Linked DNA regions of Homo sapiens. The protein of the gene in region 2 purifies or fractionates together with the protein of the main gene of each other region. This does not show direct contact. Each region holds a gene or a part of one and is shown on either strand. Other genes may lie near its edges.

Evidence for each region. The genes of interacting proteins can lie anywhere in the genome.
Region 1: the proteins of BMERB1 (region 2) and POLE purify together in Homo sapiens (affinity purification with mass spectrometry; 2 studies listed by BioGRID and IntAct, with this or other methods). This does not show direct contact.
Region 3: the proteins of BMERB1 (region 2) and SPAG9 purify together in Homo sapiens (affinity purification with mass spectrometry; 2 studies listed by BioGRID and IntAct, with this or other methods). This does not show direct contact.

What each region holds. Positions count from the first base shown.
Region 1 is NC_000012.12:132,684,343-132,691,885, forward strand, and holds the start of POLE (DNA polymerase epsilon catalytic subunit A), read right to left. Parts: upstream 3,001-7,543; 5' UTR 2,974-3,000; coding exon 2,912-2,973; intron 1-2,911. Other genes in the region: PXMP2 (peroxisomal membrane protein 2), read left to right, coding at 3,329-3,450, 5,921-6,034. UniProt on the Homo sapiens protein: Catalytic component of the DNA polymerase epsilon complex. Participates in chromosomal DNA replication.
Region 2 is NC_000016.10:15,429,717-15,437,872, reverse strand, and holds the start of BMERB1 (bMERB domain-containing protein 1), read right to left. Parts: upstream 3,286-8,156; 5' UTR 3,220-3,285; coding exon 3,114-3,219; intron 1-3,113.
Region 3 is NC_000017.11:50,991,869-50,998,868, forward strand, and holds part of SPAG9 (C-Jun-amino-terminal kinase-interacting protein 4), read right to left. Parts: intron 6,750-7,000; coding exon 6,576-6,749; intron 4,827-6,575; coding exon 4,697-4,826; intron 3,666-4,696; coding exon 3,576-3,665; intron 3,357-3,575; coding exon 3,189-3,356; intron 2,068-3,188; coding exon 1,896-2,067; intron 1-1,895. UniProt on the Homo sapiens protein: The JNK-interacting protein (JIP) group of scaffold proteins selectively mediates JNK signaling by aggregating specific components of the MAPK cascade to form a functional JNK signaling module.

The DNA of each region.
Region 1 (7,543 bases), on a different chromosome or scaffold from region 2:
TCTCATTCACAGAGAGCTACCATTGACTGGTTACTGTATCACACCGTCCCAGTACTCCACACAGGCTCTCATTCACAGAGCTACCATTGACTGGTTACTATATCACACCGTCCCAGTACTCCACACAGGCTCTCATTCACAGAGCTACCATTGACTGGTTACTATATCACACCGTCCCAGTACTCCACACAGGCTCTCATTCACAGAGAGCTACCATTGACTGGTTACTGTATCACACCGTCCCAGTACTCCACACAGGCTCTCATTCACAGAGAGCTACCATTGACTGGTTACTGTATCACACCGTCCCAGTACTCCACACAGGCTCTCATTCACAGAGAGCTACCATTGACTGGTTACTGTATCACACCGTCCCAGTACTCCACACAGGCTCTCATTCACAGAGAGCTACCATTGACTGGTTACTGTATCACACCGTCCCAGTACTCCACACAGGCTCTCATTCACAGAGCTACCATTGACTGGTTACTATATCACACCGTCCCAGTACTCCACACAGGCTCTCATTCACAGAGAGCTACCATTGACTGGTTACTATATCACACCGTCCCAGTACTCCACACAGGCTCTCATTCACAGAGAGCTACCATTGACTGGTTACTGTATCACACCGTCCCAGTACTCCACACAGGCTCTCATTCACAGAGAGCTACCATTGACTGGTTACTGTATCACACAATCCCAGTACTCCACAGGCTCTCATTCACAGAGCTACCATTGACTGGTTACTATATCACACCGTCCCAGTACTCCACACAGGCTCTCATTCACAGAGAGCTACCATTGACTGGTTACTATATCACACCGTCCCAGTACTCCACACAGGCTTTCATTCACAGAGCTACCATTGACTGGTTACTGTATCACACCGTCCCAGTACTACACACAGGCTCTCATTCACAGAGAGCTACCATTGACTGGTTACTGTATCACACTGTCCCAGTACTCCACACAGGCTCTCATTCACAGAGAGCTACCATTGACTGGTTACTGTATCACACCGTCCCAGTACTCCACATATGCTCTCATTCAGTTTTCATGACAACCCCTACGAGGGAGGCCACTGGTGTCCCCATTTCACACAAGAAGAAACGCAGGCAAACAGCACCCACTGCCTCCTGGGGCACACTCACCTCCCAGGACTGTTTTAAGGATGAGATGAGGTAACCCACATAAAGCATGTAAGGTAAAAGCCATCACTTGTACTTATCCCAGCAGCAGCCTTCCCCCTGCCTGGAGGCCATCACTGAGCTTGGGGCAGGGCAGTGGAGTGGAGCACGTGAGTGCAGTCCTGTGTCCTGAAGCAGGGCAGTCAGTAACCGTCTCTAAGCTCCAAGTTCCAACACACCATGTAGACCCTAAGGGTACCTGCCTCTCTAGGGCTTGCCTGATATGGACAGACAGCGATGAGCACAACAGCAGTTAGGGATCCTTACCACTTGGTTTCTCCTCTGGGAAGAATTTTGTTCAGCTAAGTGTCTGTAAAAAGCTTCACGTTCTCACACGTTTTTTCTATTTTTTTTTTTTTGAGACAGAGTTTCATTCTTTGTTGCCCAGCCTGGAGTGCAATGGCGCGATCTCGGTTCACCGCAACCTCCGCCTGCCGCGTTCAAGTGATTCTCCTGCCTCAGCCTCCTGCGTAGCTGGGATTACAGGCATGCGCCACCACGCCCCGCTAATTTTGTATTTTTTTAGTGGAGACGGGATTTCTCCATGTTGGTCAGGCTGGTCTCGAACTCCTGACCTCAGGTGATCCTCCTGCCTCGGCCTCCCAAAGTGCTGGGATTACAGGTGTGAGCCACCGCGCCGGGCCTCATCCGTTTTCTGCTTATGGCAGGCCAGTCCTCCGGTCATGTTTACCGTTTGCTCTGGCCACCAAGCAGCCGCGTCTTATCCTTGCTCTATTTTTTTTGAGACTGGGTCTGGCTCCGTCGCCCAGGCTGGAGTGCGGTGGCGCGATCCCGGCTCACAGCAGCCTTGACCTGCCGGGCTCAGGTGAACCTCCGGCTCGGATTCGGGAGTATTAATAGCTGGGACCTCGGGCGCGCACCACCAGCCTGTCTAATTTTTCTTGTTTTTACAAGAGAAGGGCCGGGCGCGGAGTCTCACGTCTGTAATCCCAGCACTTTGGAAGGCCGAGGCGGGCGGATCACCTGAGGTCAGGAGTTCGAGACCAGCCTGGCCAACATGGTGAAACCCGGTCTCTACTAAAAATACAAAAACTAGCCGGGCCTGGTGGCGGGCGCCTGTAATTCCAGCTACTCGGGAGGCTGAGGCAGCGGGATCGCTTGAACCCGGGAAGCAGAGGTTGCAGTGAGCCGAGATCGCGCCACTGCACTCCAGCCTGGGCGACAGAGCGGGACTCCCTGCCCAAAAAAATAAAACAGAGGAGACGAGGTCTCTCTCTGTAGCCCAGGCTGATCTAGAACAGGATCCTGGGCTCCAGCGATCCGCCCGCCTCGGCCTCCCCCAGCGCTAGGCCCCCAGGCAGGGTCCCCGGCCCCGCCCCTCCCCGCACCCTCCCCAGCCGCGCGTCCACCCCGCAGGGCCTGGCCCGGGTCCCGCCGCTCTCATCGCCCCCGCCGCGCGGCAGGTCCCAAACGCAGCTGCGCGGAAGGCGAGGCCCGAAAAACCTCAGAAAGAGCCGAGCAGGGAAAGGCCGCGCGGCCCGCCTCGTTTCCCCGCAAAGAAGCCGCGCCCGTAGCGCCTCCGCCCGCCCCGAGCCCCTCCGTCGGCGGTCGGGGCGCGCCGCCCTACCCCAGTCAGGCGCGGCGAGTGCGGGCGGCTGCGGGAACCGGGCCTCCCTCCCGCCTCGGCGGCGCCAGCCGAGGACGGCCCCATGGCACCCTCCGGAGGGCCGGCCCGAGAGCCTCAGGAGGGCGCCCCTCACCTGCTGGCCTCGCCATCCGCGCCTGGGTCCGCGCGCCGCCGCCCGCCGCTCCTCAGAGACATGGAGCCGTTGGCTACCACCTCTGCTTCAGGGGAGAAATTTGGCGCGCTCCCACCCAGACTCGCGAGAGCCGGAAATGCCGCCGTCCATCAAGAGGCGCGCTCCGCCCCTCCCCCGCCCCCCGAGGCGCTCCAATTGGCGCCGGCGCCCGGCGGGGGAGGTGGCCGGCAGGGACCGGGGAAAAGTGTGTGGTAGGCGCGCGCGGCGCACCGTGGGGTTGGGACCGGGCGGCGCTGCGGGCCGCGGTGGGGCCGGAAATGTCAGGCGGTCCCCACTCCGCTCTCGGCGCCTCGGGCTCCGCGCCCGGCCAGCCTGAGGTGGGGTCGGTGCCCCCGGCGGCACGGCGCTGGGGAGGCGATGGCGCCGGCCGCGTCCAGGCTGCGGGCCGAAGCCGGGCTCGGGGCGCTGCCGCGGCGGGCGCTCGCCCAGTACCTGCTCTTCCTGCGGCTCTACCCGGTGCTCACCAAGGCGGCCACCAGGTGAGCGGGGGCGCGGGAATCGGACGCCGCCCCGGCCCCAGGTCGGCCGCAGCGGCGCGGGGCCTGGACGGGAGCGCCGGGCCGGGACCAGGCTGGGGGCGCGCCCGGGTCAGAACCCCCGGAGCGGGCGCCCTCCGACCCGGCGCTGAACTTCCCGCGGCGACACCCGCGTCCGCAGTCAGCGATTGTGAGGCGCCTTGCGGATCCCGCCCTCCCAGCGCGTGGAGGGCCCGCCCAGACCCGGGGGTCGGCGCTGAGGTTCCACCCAAGGACCCAACAGGGGCCCCGCGCGCCCGGGGAAGCCACGGCAAGGGGAGCGGGTCCGCAGGCGCGGGTGAAGACAGGGCGAGGGGAGCGGGTCTGCGGGGCGCGGGTGAAGACAGGGCGAGGGGAGCGGGTCTGCGGGGCGCGGGTGAAGACAGGGCGAGGGGAGCGGGTCTTGGGGGCGCGGGTGAAGACAGGGCGAGGGGAGCGGGTCTGCGGGGCGCGGGTGAAGACAGGGCCAGGGGAGCGGGTCTGCGGGGCACGGGTGAAGACAGGGCCAGGGGAGCGGGTCCTCATGGAGCGTGTGGAGACAGGGCCAAGGGAGCGAGTCTGCGGGGCGCGGGTGAAGACAGCGCCAGGGGAGCGGGTCTTGGGGGCGCGGGTAAAGACAGGGCCAGGGGAGCGGGTCCTCATGGCGCGGGTGGAGACAGGGCCAAGGGAGCGGGTCTGCGGGGCGCGGGTGAAGACAGGGCCAAGGGAGCGGGTCTGCGGGGCGCGGGTGAAGACAGGGCGAGGGGAGCGGGTCTGCGGGGCACGGGTAAAGACAGGGCCAAGGGAGCGGGTCTGCGTGGTGCGGGTGAAGACAGGGCCAGGGGAGCGGGTCTGCGGGGCACGGGTGAAGACAGGGCGAGGGGAGCGGGTCTTGGGGGCGCGGGTGAAGACAGGGCCAGGGGAGCGGGTCTGCGGGGCACGGGTGAAGACAGGGCGAGGGGAGCGGGTCTTGGGGGCGCGGGTGAAGACAGGGCCAGGGGAGCGGGTCTGCGGGGCACGGGTGAAGACAGGGCGAGGGGAGCGGGTCTTGGGGGCGCGGGTGAAGACAGGGCCAGGGGAGCGGGTCTGCGGGGCACGGGTGAAGACAGGGCCAGGGGAGCGGGTCCTCATGGAGCGTGTGGAGACAGGGCCAAGGGAGCGAGTCTGCGGGGCGCGGGTGAAGACAGCGCCAGGGGAGCGGGTCTTGGGGGCGCGGGTAAAGACAGGGCCAGGGGAGCGGGTCCTCATGGCGCGGGTGGAGACAGGGCCAAGGGAGCGGGTCTGCGGGGCGCGGGTGAAGACAGGGCCAAGGGAGCGGGTCTGCGGGGCGCGGGTGAAGACAGGGCGAGGGGAGCGGGTCTGCGGGGCACGGGTAAAGACAGGGCCAAGGGAGCGGGTCTGCGTGGTGCGGGTGAAGACAGGGCCAGGGGAGCGGGTCCACATGGAGCGTGTGGAGACAGGGCCAAGGGAGCGAGTCTGCGGGGCGCGGGTCCGCACGGCGCGGGTGGAGACACGGCCAGGGAAGGTGTTTTGAGAAGGTGACATTGAACAGGCTGTGTAAAGAAGTGGAGCAGAGGCTCTCCTGGCACAGGGAACAGCAGGGCAAAGGTCTCTGTTAGGTTTTGAAGGGAAGGCCGGCGTTAAAGAAAGGCGGAGAGAGGTGCAGCTTGGACTCAGTCCCGAGGGAGGGAAGATCTGTGTGTGGAGAAAGTGAACCCTGAGCAAGAGGCAGGAGATGTGAAGGGAATCGCCAGGGATCTGATCGAGAAGGTGTCTAGGTCCGTGCTAGGAATTTTGGATTTTATAGTCCAGAGAGCTTCTCAGAAGGCAAATACAAACCAAGGCCTGGAGGGAGCCACTGGGCCTGTTCCACCTTTTTATGGAAATTTTTATTGTGATAATTGTAGATTCACAAACAGTTACAAGACTAACATGGAGAGATTCCTTGCACACCTTCCCAGTGTCCCCCATTGGTTACATTCTGTGAAACGTAGTGCAGTATCGACCAGGGCATTGCGTGGACACAGTCCACAGATCCTATTCGGATTTCTCCATTTTTCTTGTAGCTGTATCTGTTCTGTACAGTTTTATCACATCTGTACATTCTTGTGTTCACTACCACAGTCAAAATGCAGAACAGCGTCATGATAGGGCTGTCCTGTTGCCCGTTCATAACCACACAGCTTCCCAACTCCCAAACTGCCAAATTATAGTATAACATCACAGCCAGGATGTTGACATAGATACTGGAAAGCCACTTGTCCTTACCTGTGTGTTTAAGTCCACCGTCTCCACCTTTTGATACAAGAACTATACATTGCAGCCGCTTTAACAAGAATTCCTACCCCCCGCCCATCTGCTGCATGGCCTCAGAACGGCCCTGCTAATTCACCTATGGGAAAGGGACACCCTCCTGCTGGTCACTGCTGTTTTCTGATGACCTCCCTCTCCACAGTGGCATTTTGTCAGCACTTGGGAACTTCCTGGCCCAGATGATTGAGAAGAAGCGGAAAAAAGAAAACTCTAGAAGTCTGGATGTCGGTGGGCCTCTGAGATATGCCGTTTACGGGTGAGTGCCATACAAGGGGTGGGTTTACCTTGTAGCCGCTGAGTGCAACCAAGCTGGGCACCAAAACCGAGTAGTTGGAGTACTCTTATTTGGAAATATAATTTTTTAAAAACCATTGTAGTAATCATCATGGGAAAAAACTCGAATGGTTCATATAGTTTGTATGGCATATATACGCATACGTGGTTTTTTTTGTTTTTTCTTTTTTTTTGGAGACAGAGTCTCACTCTGTCACCCAGGCTTACTGCAACCTCTGCCTCTCTGGTTCAAGTGATTCTCCTGCCTCAGCCTCTCAAATAGCTGGGATTACAGGCACACACCGCCATGCCCAGCTAATTTTTGTTATTTTTAGTAGAGATGGGGTTTCACCATGTTGGCCAGGCTGGTCTTGAACTCCTGACCTCAAGTGATCCACCTTCCTTGGCCTCCCAAAGTGCTGGGATTACAGTGCTAGGAGTACAGGCTCACATTTGTGGTTTTATCATGTTTCTTTTTAATTGGATGGGTAGGGGTGACTGTCTTAATTGGGCTGAGAGGCAAACCTGAGGACAAGTAACTCAACTTAACCTAAAGTCAGACTTCAGGATTCAAAAACCCTGAAAGCGTCCTAGACTGGGCTCATGGAAAGGGAAAACTGACTCCAATTTGACCAGTTAGTTTCTATTGTTATTTTAATTTTTTTTTTTTTTTTTTGAGACGGAATCTCACTCTGCTGCCCAGACTGGAGTGCGGTGGCGCGATCTTGGCTTACTGCAAGCTCTGCCTCCTGGGTTCACGCCATTCTCCCGACTCAGTCTCCCGAGTAGCTGGGACTACAGGCACCTGCCACCACGCCCGGCTAATTTTTTGTATTTTTAGTAGAGACGGGGTTTCACCATTCACAGGATGGTCTGGATCTCCTGACCTCGTGATCCGCCCACCTTGGCCTCCCAAAGTGCTGGGATTACAGGCGCGAGCCACAGTGCCTGGCCTCTATTGTTATTTTCATAGTGTAAACATCCAGAAAATAAATGCTTCGGTACCCTGAAAAATGTCCAGTTTCTGAACCACTTTCTGAGTTGCAAAAGCACAGTAATTCAAGAGTTTTACCAATTTAATCCACCGTGAGCTCTCGGCCAACAGTAATGTGAAGTATTTTCCAACTACAGTGATGTTTTCTTTAATTCAGAATTCCTGAAGATCATTTTTATACTTCCAAGCTTGCTAACTTGAGTCATCATGGATTTTTCCATACTGTATTTAAAGCAGTAATCCCCCCAAGAGGGGCAGGTGATGAGATCACCTAGCAGGCCTCATCCAAGTACAGTTTTCCCATCCACAGGACTTCAGTCCCCTTCCCCACTGAGAATCCCTGCATAGGCCACATAACCCCCTATGACTGGGTGGGAAAAAACACTGAGAACCACTTATCTAAAGACTGTCAACGTCACAAGTTGAAAGACCCCTCTTTTTGTTGCTGAATTTTATGGAACTGCAGGCCTCTTGTCCCAGTAGATGTGGCAGCTGGTT
Region 2 (8,156 bases):
CATTCTCCTGTGTCAGCCTCCCCGGCAGCTGGGACAATAGGCGCCCACTGCCACACCCAGCTAATTTTTTGTATTTCTAGTATAGATGGGGTTTCACCGTGTTAGCCAGGATGGTCTTGATCTCCTGACCTTGTGATCCGCCCGCCTCGGCCTCCCAAAGTGCTGGGATTGCAGGCGTGAGCCAATGCGCCTGGCCTTATACCTGACTTTTAACAGTGTGCAGCATAGGACCCAGAAGTACAAAAATTTCAGGATTGAAACTGCTGTAAATTGGGTGCTTGCTGCAATTTTCCTGCATGTTTCAAATTTTTTCTCATAAAATGTTAAGATATAAAAAGCTACAAGGGCATTATTGAAGAATTGACCAATATTTACATAATTCCTTGCAAAGAGTAAAAGCAGGTTCTGTCTATAAATGTTGTGCAGTAACCGAATGGAAGTGAACAATACGTATTGAGCACTTAACCTTGAGTACTATATGTATCATCTTATTTAGTATACACAATAAAGACATAATCTCTATTTTCAGAAAATGAAGGCAGAGTGAGGCTTAGCAATACTCCTAAAGTCACATAGCCAGCAAGGCACAGAGTGAGGATTCAAAGCAGCACTCTTGTGAACAGCTTCCATTCTGCGTGGACCCAGCATTTTTTTAAGGCCTCTGTGAGCTTCAGAGAGCAACAGGGCTGCCACATAATTATAAAATCACTGAGCATGTTCTGTGACTATCTCAATAGACTTAGGAAGTTTTCTGAAACCATGAAAGCAATAAACCTTCATGTTAAAAGCAGGCTCTGGGGTCCAACAGACCGGGGTTCAAATCCTGGTTCTGCCACTTAACTGTCAGATCACCTAACAAGTCCCAGTTTTGTTTTGTTTTTTTAAATCTATGCAAGATTTTAAATTTATATTTAAATTTTTTATTTTAAAATGTTTTGTTTTAAAATTTTTATTTTAAAATGTTTTTTTAAATCTAGGCAAGATTTAAATTTATAAATCTTAGTACTGCAGGAGGTTGTTGAGGGGACTAAATGAAATGATGCATTTAGAGTTCTCAGCACATGGTCATCTAGCAATAAAAGGCAGCCATTGTTGAGATTATTTTGAGCTTGTAAGAAACAAGAGACCCTCATGGAGATACAGAGTAGAATGATGGTTACCAGAGGCTGGGGAGGGTATTGGGATGGGGGGACACAGAGATGGTTAATGGGTACAAAAATATAGGTAGATAGAATGAATAAGATCTAGTATCTGATAGCACAACACGATGACTACAGTCAACAATTTATTGTACATTTAAAAATAACTAAAAGAGGGCAGGTGGGGTGCCTCACACCTGTAATCCCGGCACTTTGGGAGGCCAGGGCAGGCCGATCACCTGAGGTCAGGAGTTCGGGACCAGCCTGCCCAACATGGTGAAACCCCATCTCTACTAAAAATACAAAAGTTAGCCAGGCATGGTGGCGAGCACCTGTAATCTCAGCTACTCTGGAGGCTGAGGCAGGAGAATCGCTTGAACCCAGGAAGTGGAGGTCGCAGTGAGCCGAGATTGTGTCATTGCACTCCAGTCTGGGCAACAAGAGCGAAACTCCGTCTCAAAAAAAAAAAAAAAAAAGCTAAACTAAAAGAGTATAATTAGTCACACAGCTGGGCTTTTTTAAAAAAGGAGTGTAATTGGATTGTTTGTAACACAAAAAAAAGGATAAATGCTTGAGGTTTTGGATACCCCGTTTACCCTGATGTGATTATTACACATTGTATGCCTGTATCAAAATATCTCATGTATTCCATAAATATGGACACCCACTATGTGCACTTAAAAATTAAAGAAAGAAACAGAGACCCTCAGCCCTGACGCCCTGATATTATGCCAAAGCACCAAGTCATTGGGTCTTGAAAGGATGAACTAGAAAGAAAGACCAAGGTTAAAAAGGGAGAAAAAAAAAGAAAAGGAAAGAGGTTGGCAGTGCTATGACATCCATCCTAGCCCATGAACCACTAAGACATTGGATTGTGATTTCAACTTCAACCCGTCAGAATCAGAACACAGTTGAGCCCTTCTAGGAAGATTTTCTAAATCCATAATTACAGGTATAGAGAAAGAAAGCGCGCACACACAATTTTCCACCAGGTGAGGACAGAATAAGATCACATTCACAATACTTTAGCCCTACATCGCTCAGAGATCCGTGCTGGGGCAGAGCGCGGAGCAGTGACCCAGAGCCGAGGCAGGAAGCTGCCGGGTCCCTGAGAAGGACCTCTCCTTCCCAGCCTGGTGGGCAAGCCATGTGAGAGCAGCGGCTTTGGGGAGCCCCCGGGTTTGCAGGGACCTCCAGTGACCCTGGAGCCCCTGACGCTGCCTCTACACTTTGAGGGCAGGAGTTTCAACTATTGTATCCTATTAATGAAAAACAAAATCCTTCGTTTACTTAGAAATGTTGACATCCAAACACCGCAGAGAGAACCAGTAAATAAATACAGCCGGTCTATTTCGAAACTGCCTTCTAGAGTTGTGCCCAAGCAGACTTTAACTGAGTCAAGAGAGAAAAGAGAACGGTGTGTGCCTTTTGACCCTTTTGCCGCCCCAAGCCTCCCACCCCGACCCAAGGAAGGCGAGGGAGGAAAAGCTGGGAATTTCAGGTGCGCTCCGAAACCTCACGCAGGGGGTAGGAAAGCAAGCGGAAAACCAGCAGACACTCCCCCCTCTCCAGGGACGTGGGCGCTTTCCAGGACGGTCCCGCGTCTCCAGCGCCCTGGCGCATCCCAGGCGGAGAGAGGATCCTCCTCCCTGGGCTGTGGGAGAGACCCGACTTCACAGGACCAGCTGCGAGCTGACGGATCCGGGACTCCTAAGTCGAGCCCAGGCTCCTGCCTTAGCTGCCTGGCCATCTCCCAACCCTCCCAGTGAGGCTCAGCCCGGAGGGTCCCCCCCTTTTGTTCGCGGGGAGAGCGCGTCGCTGCGCAGAGCTGCGTATCCCCCTGAGCTGCCAGCCCCGCTGCGGGGGCGCTTCCCTGGGTCCACTGCTGGCGTTCCTCGCGCTCCCGCGACCACCCGCGCAGGCGCATGGATCCCCAGCTGTCCCCGGCCCCCCGCCCCCCGCCCCAGTACTCACTTCTCCCCAGTCTCTCCGTTTTCCAAGCCGTCTCCTCCACCGCCCCATAGCGCCTCAGAGGCTTCTCGGCTTCCAGATGGGTGGACAAAGATTGCTTTAATTCCATCGCTGATCCCCGTGGCCAGGTCGACGGGTCTCCCTTTACTCCATTCCCGTTGCGGGCTGCAGGGAGGGAGGTGGCTCCAGCCAGCAGCGTTTTAACGGGCCGGGCGCCCGTGACGCTGCTCCCTCTCCTCCGCCGCCGCCAGCGCCCGGGAGCGCCTACGGGTACCCAGAAGGGGCAGGGATGCACGGCACATGCGCAGTGGAGGCTTGGAGGGGAGGCTTGGGGGCTGGGTAGGGAGACAGAGGGGCAGGTGATAACTCTAAGAAAAACAACAAACAAAACAACTAAAATAAAAGCAACACAAAGGAAGTGAGAACAAGGCCCCTGCCTATTCTAGAGCCCCTAGTGATGCTTGGCATGGGGCTGGCACTGTGGGCGGCTTGCGAGCTGTAAGCCGGCAGCGGGTTTTGAGTGGGATTGGTGAGCCCGTCTCTACCTGCGGGCGATGCATCCGTCTTTCTGGGGAGCATGCAGAGGCGTGAGTGTGGACCTAGATCTATGGGTTCTGGGCTTGGCTGACTGCTTTTCTGTGAGAATATCTGTCGTGTGCGTCTGTTTAATTTGAAGTGCGACAGTGGATGCCTATGTCAGTTCCATATGTGTTTGCATGCACTTTGGGGAGAGAGAGAGAGAGATGAAAATATTTTGCACACAGGTATAGCAGAGCTGTTTGGAGCATGGGGCTTTACTTTCCAGAAACCCCAGAGGTTTATCTTTAAAAACAAACAAACAAACAAACAAAAAACACCATGGCAGTGCCTGGGCACGATGGCTCATGCCTGTAATCCCAGCACTTTGGGAGGCCGAGGTGGGTGGATCACTTGAGGCCAGGAGTTTGAGACTAGCCTGGCCAACATGGTGAAACCCCATCTTTACTGAAAATACAAAAATTAGCCAGCTGTGATGGCGCAGGCCTGTAATTCCAGCTACTCGGGAGGCTGAGGCAGGAGAATCGCTTGAACCTGGGAGGCAGAGGTTTCAGTCATCCGAGATCATGCCATTGCACTCCAGCCTGGGCAACAAGAGGAAAACTCCGTCTCAAAAAAAGAAAAGAAACGAAAAAAAGAAAATGATATCCCAGTAGGAAACAGGGAAAGAATATGAATAGTCATGTCATGTGGGCAGAGGAGGAAGGCCTAATGTGAGAAGCTGCTCAACCCCCTTAGTAATAAGGAAAATGAAAATGTAAATAAGAATATATCATCCGATAGGCAAAAACTAAAAAATCTAACAATCATGTGTTGTAAAAGATGTGGATTTTTTTTTTGAGACAGAGTCCAAAAATGCTGGGGTTACAGATGTGAGACACCATGCCTGGCATAATTTGAACTTTTATCTAATGCTAGTGGGAGTATAAATTGGTACAACTGTTTTTTTCTCTCTGTCACCCAGGCTGGAGTGCAGTGGCATAGTCTCGGCTCACTGAAACCTCCACCTCCTGGGTTCAAGCTCCTGAGTAGCTGCGACTACAGGCGTGCCACCATGCCCAGCTAATTTTTTGTATTTTTAATGGAGATGTGGTTTCACCATGTTGGCCAGGCTGGTCTCGAACTCCTGAGCTCAAGTGATCTGCCCGCCTTGGTCTCCCAAAGTGCTGAGACTACAGGAATGAGCCACTGTGCCTGGCTGCATGAATGTAATGTTTATTGTTCTCAGGTATATATGTATAACTCTACAAATTATATATAATAGCGCTATTTAACATTTTCTTATAATTTATACAAATGATATCATACTTTATAATTCTGCAAGTTGCTTTTTTCTGTTGTTGTTCCACAATATGCTTTTCTTCCTTTTAAAAAGATAGAGACAGGTTTTCACTGTGTTGCTCAGGCTGGTCTTGAATTCCTGGGCTCAAGTGATCCACCTGCCTCAGCCTGCCAAAGTGCTAGGATTACAGGCGTGAGCCACCGTGCCCGGCCCACATTATGCTTTTGAGAAATACGAATTCTGATTCATGTAACTCTGGTTCATAGTCTACTGTATAGTATTCTACATGAATGAACCATAATTGGTCTATTTTTTCATTGATGAGGTATAAAGATTATTCCCAATTGTCCACAATTACAAACATGGCAGCAGCAAATGTTTTTATACTCATTTCCCTGTACGACTGAATAGGAGTTTTTCTAGGGGGAAAAATTACAATGGCATGGGGTATGCACATCTGCCAGTTGGACTAGAGTGTCAACCTGCTTTTAAAATTAGTTGTACCAGGCCAGGCACAGTGGCTCACGCCTGTAATCCCAGCACTTTGGGAGGCTGAGGCGGGCGGTTAGTCTGAGGTCAGGAGTTCGAGACCAGCCTGGCCAACATGCTGAAACCCCGTCTCTACTAAAAATACAAAAAAAAAAAAAAAAAAAAAAATTAGCCGGGCCTGGTGGCGCACACCTGTAATTCCAGCTACTCAGGAGGTTGAGGCAGGAGAATCACTTGAACCCGTGGGACGGAGGTTGCAGTGAACTGAGATCATGACACTGCACTCCAGCCTCAGTGACAGTGAGACGCTGTCTCAAAAAAAAAAAAAAAAAACAATAAACATTACATTCAGGATAGTAATTACTTTAGGAGGCTGGGAAAGGGTAAGTAGTTAGTTTCAGCTATATCTAAAATTTATATATTTTTAAACTATTTACAGTATTTTGAAAATTTTTAAATCTACAGAAAAGTTGCAAGTTTAGTACAATAAGAAAAATACAGACCTTGGCCAGGTGCGGTGGCTCATGCCTATAATCCCAGCACTTTGGGAGGCTAAGGTGGGAGGAATCCTTGAGCTCAGGAGTTCGAGACCAGCCTGGGCAGCAAAGCAGTTTTCCATCTCTACAAAAATTAAAACATTAACCAGGTGTGGTGGCACACACCTATAATTCCAGATACTCAGGAGGCTGAGGTAGGAGGACTGCTTGGGCCTGGGAGGTCGAGGCTACAGTGAGGCAAGACCACACCACTCTACTCCAACCTAGATGACAGAGTGAGACCCTGTCTCCAAAATACACACACACACACATATATATATATAGTTTGTGTGTGTATATATACAGTATGTGTATATATACGTTATTTTATATAATATGTATGTTATTTTCTTGTATATGTGTGTGTATATATACAATATATATATATATACACACGCACACACATCCCTTACTAGATTCACTAATGAATATTTAAATTTATATTTCTTAAAAGAGATCTGAAGCATATATGTTAAAATCTGTTGGAGATGGCTGGTGGGCACTACACCCTTACCAGAATGACTAAAATTAAAAAGACTGACAATACCAAATGTTAGTCCAGATGCTAGTAAATAAATGAGTTAGCAGTTAGTAAGAATGTAACTACAATTTATTGCTGTTCGGAGTATAAAATGGTACTACCACTTTAGAAAATGAGAGATAATGGCTGGGCGTGGTGACTCACGCCTGTAATCCTAGCACTTTAGGAGGCTGAGGTGGGCGGATCACCTGAGGTCAGGGGTTCAAGACCAGCCCAACATGGCAAAACCTCGTCTGTGCTAAAAAAATTCAAAAATTAGCCAGGCGTGATGGCACATGCCCGTAATCCCAGCTACTCAGGAGACTGAGGCAGGAGAATCGCTTGAACCCGGGAGGCAGAGATTGCAGTGAACTGAGATTGCGCCACTGCATTCCAGCGTGGGCGACAGAGTGAGACTGTCTCAAAATAAAAAAGAAAGAAATAAAAAAAGACTGGCAATACCCTCTAAAGCTACAAATACATATATATTTTTCTGTCTGGCAGCAATTCTATTCCTGGATATATCCCTAAGAGAAATACATACTTGTGTCCACCAATGTTAAGAGCTTTACTCATAATGACAAGAAATGAAAACAACTCAAATGTCTATCAACAATAGAATGGACAAAAATTATGCTATATTCATACAACTGAATCTGCACAGCAACGAAAAAGACCAAACTACTGGCCAGGCACAATGGCTCACACCTGTAATCCTAGCACTTGAGGAGGCTGAGGTGGGCAAATCGCTTGAGCCCAGGAGTTCGAGACCAGCCTGGGCAACATGGCAAAATCCCTTCTCTACAAAAAATACAAAAATTAGCCAGGCATGGGTGGTGTGTGCCTGTAGTCTTAGCTACTCAGGAGGCTGAGGCAGGAGGATCACTTGAGCGTGGGAGGTTCAGGCTGCAGTGAGCCGTGATCATGCCACTGCACTCCAGCCTGGGCCACAGAGTGAAACCCTGTCTCACAAAAAAAAAAAAAAAAAAACAAACAAATTACTACCAACAAAATGGATGAATCTTACAGACATAATATATAAATAAAAGGGTGTGTATCCCTTAAAAGACGGTTGGTGCATTTAGGGATCTTTGTCATGTAATTATCTCTACATTAAAATATTTTATAATTTAAAAAAGAAAAAATACATCTATTGGATCTAAAAATTCAACTCATGGAAATCTACCCGAAGGAATATCTGAATTACTAAAAATACATTCACACAATATATTTTTTTTACAATTTATGTAAACTGTAGAAAAAATTAGAAAAGGGTCAGTATCTTACAAAAGGGAAATGGCTAAACTTATGGTATGCCTGCAATGTAACACTGTACACTTATTTAAAATGATGTTTACAAAGAAATGTAATAGGGAAATGTCATAGGGAAAACATAGCACAATTTAATCAAAATATCAGGAAAAGTAGAATACAAATTGTAATATAAAGTGTGAGCTGTCATTCTGGATCTTTTGGCTAAGATCAAGTGCACACTGTAATCTCAATCATATTTTATAGAATGATAATGGTAGAAATTTAAAAATACTGTGATTCCTTTTTTTTTTTTTTTTTGAGACAGAGTCTCGCTCTGTCACCCAGGCTAGCGTGCTGTGGTGGGATGTCGGCTCACTGCTCACCTCCCGGGCTCAAGCAGTCCTCCCGCCCAGGCCTCCTTAGTAGCT
Region 3 (7,000 bases), on a different chromosome or scaffold from region 2:
CCACCTCAGCCTCCCAAAGTGTCTGGATTACAGGTGTAAGCCACCATGCCAGGTCTTTTTTTTTTTTTTTTTTTTTTTTTTTTTAAAACACAGGGTCTTACTCCCATTGCCCAGGTGGGTGTGTAGTGGTGCAATCGTAGCTCACTGCAGTCTTGACCTCCCCGACTCAAGTTATCCTCCCGCCTCATTTTTTGATTTTTTGTGGAATGAGGTCTCACTATATTGCCCAGACTGGTCTCAAACTTCTGGGCTCAAGTGATCGTCCCACCTTGGCCTCTGAAAGTGCTGGGATTATGAGTGTGAACCTCCATGGCCGGCCTATTTCTAAAGCTTTTCCATCACCTCACACAGAAACTCTATGTTTTTATGAATGTGCCTATTCTAGATATCTCATATAAGCGGAATCATATAATATTTGTCCTTTTGTGTCCGACTTATTTCCTTTGGCATAGTGTTTCCAAGGTTCATCTGTGTTATAACATGTGTCAGAACTTCTACCTAGAGGATAATGTATTGTACTCTTAAAAATTTGTTAAGAGGGCTGGGCATCCCAATACTTCGGGAGGCCAAGGCAGGCAGATCACTTGAGCCCAGGAGTTCCAGACCAGCCTGGGCAACATGGTGAAACCCTGCCTACAAAAAGTACAAACAACTTAGCCAGGTGTGGTAGTGTGCGCCTGTGGTCCCAGCTACTTGGGAGGCTGAGCTGGGAGGATCACTTGAGCCCGGAAGGTCATGGCTGCAATGAGTACAATGAGTTGTGACTGCACCACTGCAATCCAGCCTGGGCAACAGAGTGAGGCCCTGTCTCAAAAAAACAAAAACAAAAATGTGTTAAGAGGGTAGATCTCAGGCTGGGTTCAGTGGCTCATGCCTGTAATCCCAGTACTTCGGGAGGACGAAGCGGGTGGATCACCTGAGGTCAGGAGTTCAAGACTAATCTGACTGCCCGGGGTGGTGGGTCACACCTGTAATCTCAGCACTTTGGGAGACCGAGGCGGGCAGATCACGAGGTCTAGGAGTTCGAGACCAACCTGGCCAATATGGTGACACCCCATTTCTACCAAAAATACAAAAATTAGCCGGGTGTAGTGGCTCGTGCCTGTAGTCCCAGCTACTTGGGAGGCTAAGGCAAAAGAATCACTTGAACCCAGGAGGTAGAGGTTGCAGTAAGCCGAGACGGTGCCACTGCACTCCAGTGTGAGTGACAGAGTAAGACTCCATCTCAAAAAAAAAAAAAAAAAAAGACTAGCCTGACCAACATGGTAAAACCCCGTCTCTAGTAAAAATGCAAACAATTAGCCGGGCGTGGTGGCAGGTGCCTGTAATTCCAGCTACTCGGGAGGCTGAGGCAGGAGAATCACTTGAACCTGGAAGGTGGAGGTTGCAGTGAGCCGAGATCATGCCATTGCACTCCAGCCTGGGTGACAGAGTAAGACTCTGTCTCAAAAAAAAAAAAAAAAAAAAAGTAGAACTCATATTAAGTATTCCACAATAAAATATAAAAAAGAACTTCATTCCTTTTTATGGCTGAATAATATTCCAACATATGGATATATCACATACACTTCTTTAATTTTTAAACTAATGTTTTAACATCACATAATGTTTAATCCAAAACTTTAGAAGACCTTTCCTTATTAATTAATCCAAACAGTCCTCTGGCTCCCAGTTATTTTCTCATATTCCCATTGTTTTATTTTCTTCACAGTATTTTTCACTACCTGAAAATATCTTCTTTATTCAATGGTTTCCAGTTTGTTTTTTAATCTTCCCTAACTAGAACATAAGCTTCATGACAGCAAGGTGCAGAACTGCATCTTCAGCTGCTACATCAGTGCCCAGCAGGTAGGTGGATGGAGGGGAGGGCAGAGAAACGCATGACTCACTCTTACCTGGCACACTTGCAATGCACAGAACATGAGAGTTGCAAACAGTGAAACTGTCTAGGATGTTGCCAGGTTGAACAGCATCAATAATAAGAACTTTTGTAGCCGAATGAGTGCTGGTACAGATCCAAACTAGACTGGATAATTCTTCTTGATTTTTTAACTCCTTCTGCTGTTCCTGTATAGGCAAAGGAGGAAAAATGTTTAAAACAATATGTATGTACAAATATTCATAAGGTGGTGCTGTTACAGTAAAAGGCAATACTATTTCAAATTTATTTCCAGATTATTTGGAAGGGTAAAAATACAACCACTGATGTGGTTTGGCTGCGTCCCTACCCAAAACTCAACTTGAATTGTATCTCCCCGAATTCCCACATGTTGTGAGAGGGACCCAGGGGGAGGTAATTTAATCATGGGGGCCAGTCTTTCCCATGCTATTCTCGTGATAGTGAATAAGTCTCACGAGATCTGATGGGTTTATTAGGGGTTTACACTTTTGCTTCTTCCTCATTTTCTCTTGCTGCCACCATGTAAGAAGTGCCTTTCATCTCCTGTCATGATTCTGAGGCCTCCCCAGAGGTTACCTATGTAAGCCCAATTAAACCTCTTTTTTCCTTCCCAGTCTCGGGTATGTGTTTATCAGCAGTGTGAATATAGACTAATACAACCACCTATCAATATTAATTAGTAGATGAAAAACTAGCAGTTAGGCTGGCACAGTGGCTCACGTCTGTAATCCCAGCACTTTGGGAGGCTGAGGTGGGAGGACTGCTTGAGGCCAGAAGTGTGAGACTAGCCTGGTCAACACAGTGAAACCCTCGTCTCTACAAAAAATAAAATTAGCCAGGTGTGGTGGTGTGGGTGTGTAGTCCCAGCTACTTGGGTGGCTGAAGTGGACAGATCACTTGAGTCCAGGAGGTTAACACTGCAGTGAGCCATGATCATGCCACTGCACTCCAGCCTATGTGATAGAGTGAGACTCTGTCTCTAAACAGCAACACAAAACTAACAGGTAAAGCAGAACAATGATAAAATGTTCCATTAGCTTGATCACTGTAGTGATTACATACGTGTACACATGTGTCAAAACTCTGACCTATACCCATTTCGAGTGCACACTTTATTGCATGTAAATTATACCTCAATATTTTAAAATTGATTTTAAAAGGGTGCTGAGGGACAGTAAGCCAGGGCATAGTAATCCCAATTAGAAGCTGGACCCAGAGGCAAATTTTGGATGAAAGAGTTAAACTCATAGTCTCATAAACCAGGTCAAATGTTAGTACACACACTTACCTTAAGTTCCTGATCTAACTTATCTAAACTACTCTGAGAGGCACTTCGCTGTTTACTGCCTTCTGTATCCAAACCAGCAACATCCTTGTAAAATACACTTGCTCCAACAACAGAACCACCATCTCTGGTCTTCCCACCAGATAAATTGACTCCAACAGCACACCACAGCTTCTCAGGTGAAAAAGAAAACAATATTAAGTCTAGAAATGTTTAGCATTTTCATGTTTTCTTAAAATAACTAATGGTTGTAAATACAGGTCTTATAACCTAATATTATAAAATGAACAATAACCTCACCATAGAAGTAATACTTATACTTTTTTGGTTTTAGAAAAAAAACTACCCAGAGTTTAGAAAACATCTCCTTTTAATTCACAATGAACTTACCTTCATTGATGTATCTTTTTCATCCAGAGGTCTGAGATAGACAGGCACAGGTAAATTTTTCATCTTATTTTCACCTTGACCATTGGTTACCTAATAATGGTGGAAGGAGGAGTGAAAAAGGCACATTAGTAAGCCTCATCAAAAGTGAACTTATTACAGATCCACTGAGACATGAGCAAGCACTGCTGTTATTTACTCCTTGAAATCAAGTTCAGGTTTTTTGTTTTTTTGTTTTTTTGAGACAGGGTCGCTCTACTGCCCAGGCTAGAGTGCAGTGGCTTGATCATGGCTCACTGCAGCCTCAATCTGTCAGGCTTAAGCGGTCCCCTCCCACCTCAGCCTCCAAGGTAGCTGGGACTACAGGCACAGGCCACCACACCCAGCTAATTTTTTAAATTTTTTGTAGAGATGAGGTCATGCTATGTTGCCTAGGCTGGTCTCAAACTCCCTGAGCTCAAGCCATCCTCCACCTTGGCCTCCCAAAGTGTTAGGATTATAGGCATGAGTCAATAACAGGCACCATGAGCCAATGACAGGCATCAGCCAATTTTGCCATTCTTATTTGAAAAACAGAAAAATCAAGTTGAGCAATTCAATAAACAGGATATAATGGGAGCTCAAAAAGAGGCTCTAATTCACACATATGTGCACACGTGCACATGCATATGTGTTTGTACATGAACATGTGAGTCTTTTGGGGTAGGAATTATGGAGTAGACAGATAAAATTCCTGAAGACCTGAACTTAATTTTAAATGAACAGTTTGAAAAGTTCCATGCCAATAATTTTTTCAACAATGATGCTGGTTTTTTAAAAAATGAAATCTTCAAATATTAAACCAGAATTGCTCTGGTTACAGCAGAGCGGGTACCTCAAACTCCATGCACTTAGCCACCCTTTATTGACTCCTCCCCCCCTCACAGACTCAGAGCATTTCATTTGAGTTCTACAGCTCTAGAAAACAGCCTGAAAACCACCACCCTCCATGCTTAAATGTGTGCCCAGTCCATGCGGCTGAGATGAGCAGGGCTGGGATGCGTACAGTGAATCCTTCATGCCCACGCACACTCAACTTGCCCTCTTCTTTCCTGCTGGATGCTCTTACCACATGTGCATATTACCTGTTTGTACTTCTGAGGCAGACTCCAGCCAAAAGCCTGCACTCTACCGTCTTCCTTCTGAACATGTGCTTTTACCTGACGATACTGCTCTCTCTTTTGTTCTCTGCGTGAGGCTAAACTAGCTTCAGTTCTAAAAGGAAAAAAGATTTTCCTAATTACATGAATACGTTTAATTACGTTTATCCCCAGTTTTATCTCTCCTCTGTCACTAAAACAGCAAAAACAACAAAAATTTACATGATTTCAAATTAGTTTATTTCAACTATAACAGCTCCTTAAAAAGTGTTATAATAGGCCGGGCACGGTGGCTCATGCCTGTAATCCCAACACTTTGGGAGGCCGAGGAGGGCAGATAGCCTGAGGTCAGGAGTTCGAGAGCAGCCTGGCCAACATGGTAAAACCCCGTCTCTGCTAAAAATACAAAAATTAGCCAGGCACGGTAGTGCGGACCTATAATCCCAGCTACTTGGGAGGCTGAGGCAGGAGAATCATTTGAACCCGGTGGAGGTTGCAGTGAGCCAAGATGGTGCCACTGCACTCCAGCCTGGGGGACAAGAGCAAAACTCCATCTCAAAAAACAAACAAACAAACAAACAAAGTGTTATACTAAAGCTGGTCTTTTTAAGTTTGTGCAGTGAATTCAGTGCCTAAGCTTTAACAGGTTACCAAGCAGCTTTGTTACATTAAATTGAATCATCAGCCACCAAATTTATATCAGGTTTCAGATGCTGGCCATATGAAAGGGGAAAATTCTTAAGTATGTTTGGCTTTTTTGTTGTTGTTGTTCATTCAACAAATATTTACTGAGAATATCCTAATGCCAGAAAACGTGCTAGAAGTGATTTAAAACTTGAGTAAATCAATATCTGCTTAGGAAGATTGATATAGGTTAGATTTTAGATCCCATTAACTTGTTTCAGAAAATAAAAATGCAAACTGATTTGGTAAACTTTGGAGTTATAAGGTAAAATATTATTAAAATGATTTTGAAAATAATTTGCCATTATTTTGGCCATTTAAATTTTCATAAGATGAGTTGCTATGTATATATACCACAGTTAACATATCTACCTATATGTCAGATACTTTACAGATAACTGTATAATTGGGTCCAATCACCTTTGAGATAGGTTATCAGATTAATTTTACAGACAGAGAAACTGGGGGCTCTGAAAGGTTAATTTGCCCAAGTGTTTGTACCTAATGAGTAGTAAAGTCAGGATGGAAAACCAAGTCCTCTGACACCAACAGAAATGTTCAAACATTTAGGATAAAGGCTCATTTACCTCTAAAGGCCATTCACATTTCTATTAATAGGTATTTATCAATGTTGTCATACCAGCAAAAATGAGGCATTTAAAAAAAAATCCTTCTCTTTTATAAAAACTGAAAAGCAATTTTCATAAAAACTTTTGACTACAAGTAATTTACTTAAAGACAGCCAAGTTACAGAAATGATTTTTTTTTTTTTTTTTTTTTTTTTTTTTAAAGATGGAATCTCACTCTGTCACCCAGGCTAGAGCAATGGCATGATCTCGGCTCACTGCAACCCCGCCTCCTGGGTTCAAGCGATTCTTCTGCCTCAGCCTCCCAAGTAGCTGTGATTACAGCCACACACCACCACGCCCAGCTAATTTTTGTATTTTTAGTAGAGATGGGGTTTCACCATATTGGCCAGACTGGTCTCGAACTCCTGACCTTGTGATCCGCCCACCTCGGTCTCCCAAAGTGCTGGGATTACAGGTGTGAGCCACCGTGCCTGGCCCAGAAATGATTTTTTTATAGATTTACCTGAATCCTTAGAGCTGATAAGAGGCCAAGAATATTCTGAACCACTAACTTAATTTAGAATATAATGATTAATTTGGAAAAGACTTACTCTTCACTAAGGAAATCAAAGGCTTTGGACTTATCCCCAGGGAGCTGAGATAAGGTGCTGCTTCTTTTCTTGACGGACGGAGTAACATGAGACGTGGGTGCATTGTACTTCAGATTAACAGGTGGTTCAGGCTTCTTAGTCGTGTTACTTGAGGAGCTGAAAAGTCGGCTGAAACTAAAAGAAGACAGTATGTCTGTGTGTCACATGTACTATGAGAAACAATCCTTGATTTTCCACAAACTTTAATGTTGAAGAAAATTTCAGAGTACTTTTACAAGGCAATGAGTTAGAAATTGGCAAAAACAGTTTTTGTAGTCATACGCTGTAGCCTTAGCAGTAACTCGTAGCCAAACTCAGACATTCAGTGAAGAGAAACTATTGCTTAGAATGGCGGGTGCCTGTTCTTTAACTAGCAATTTGTATAA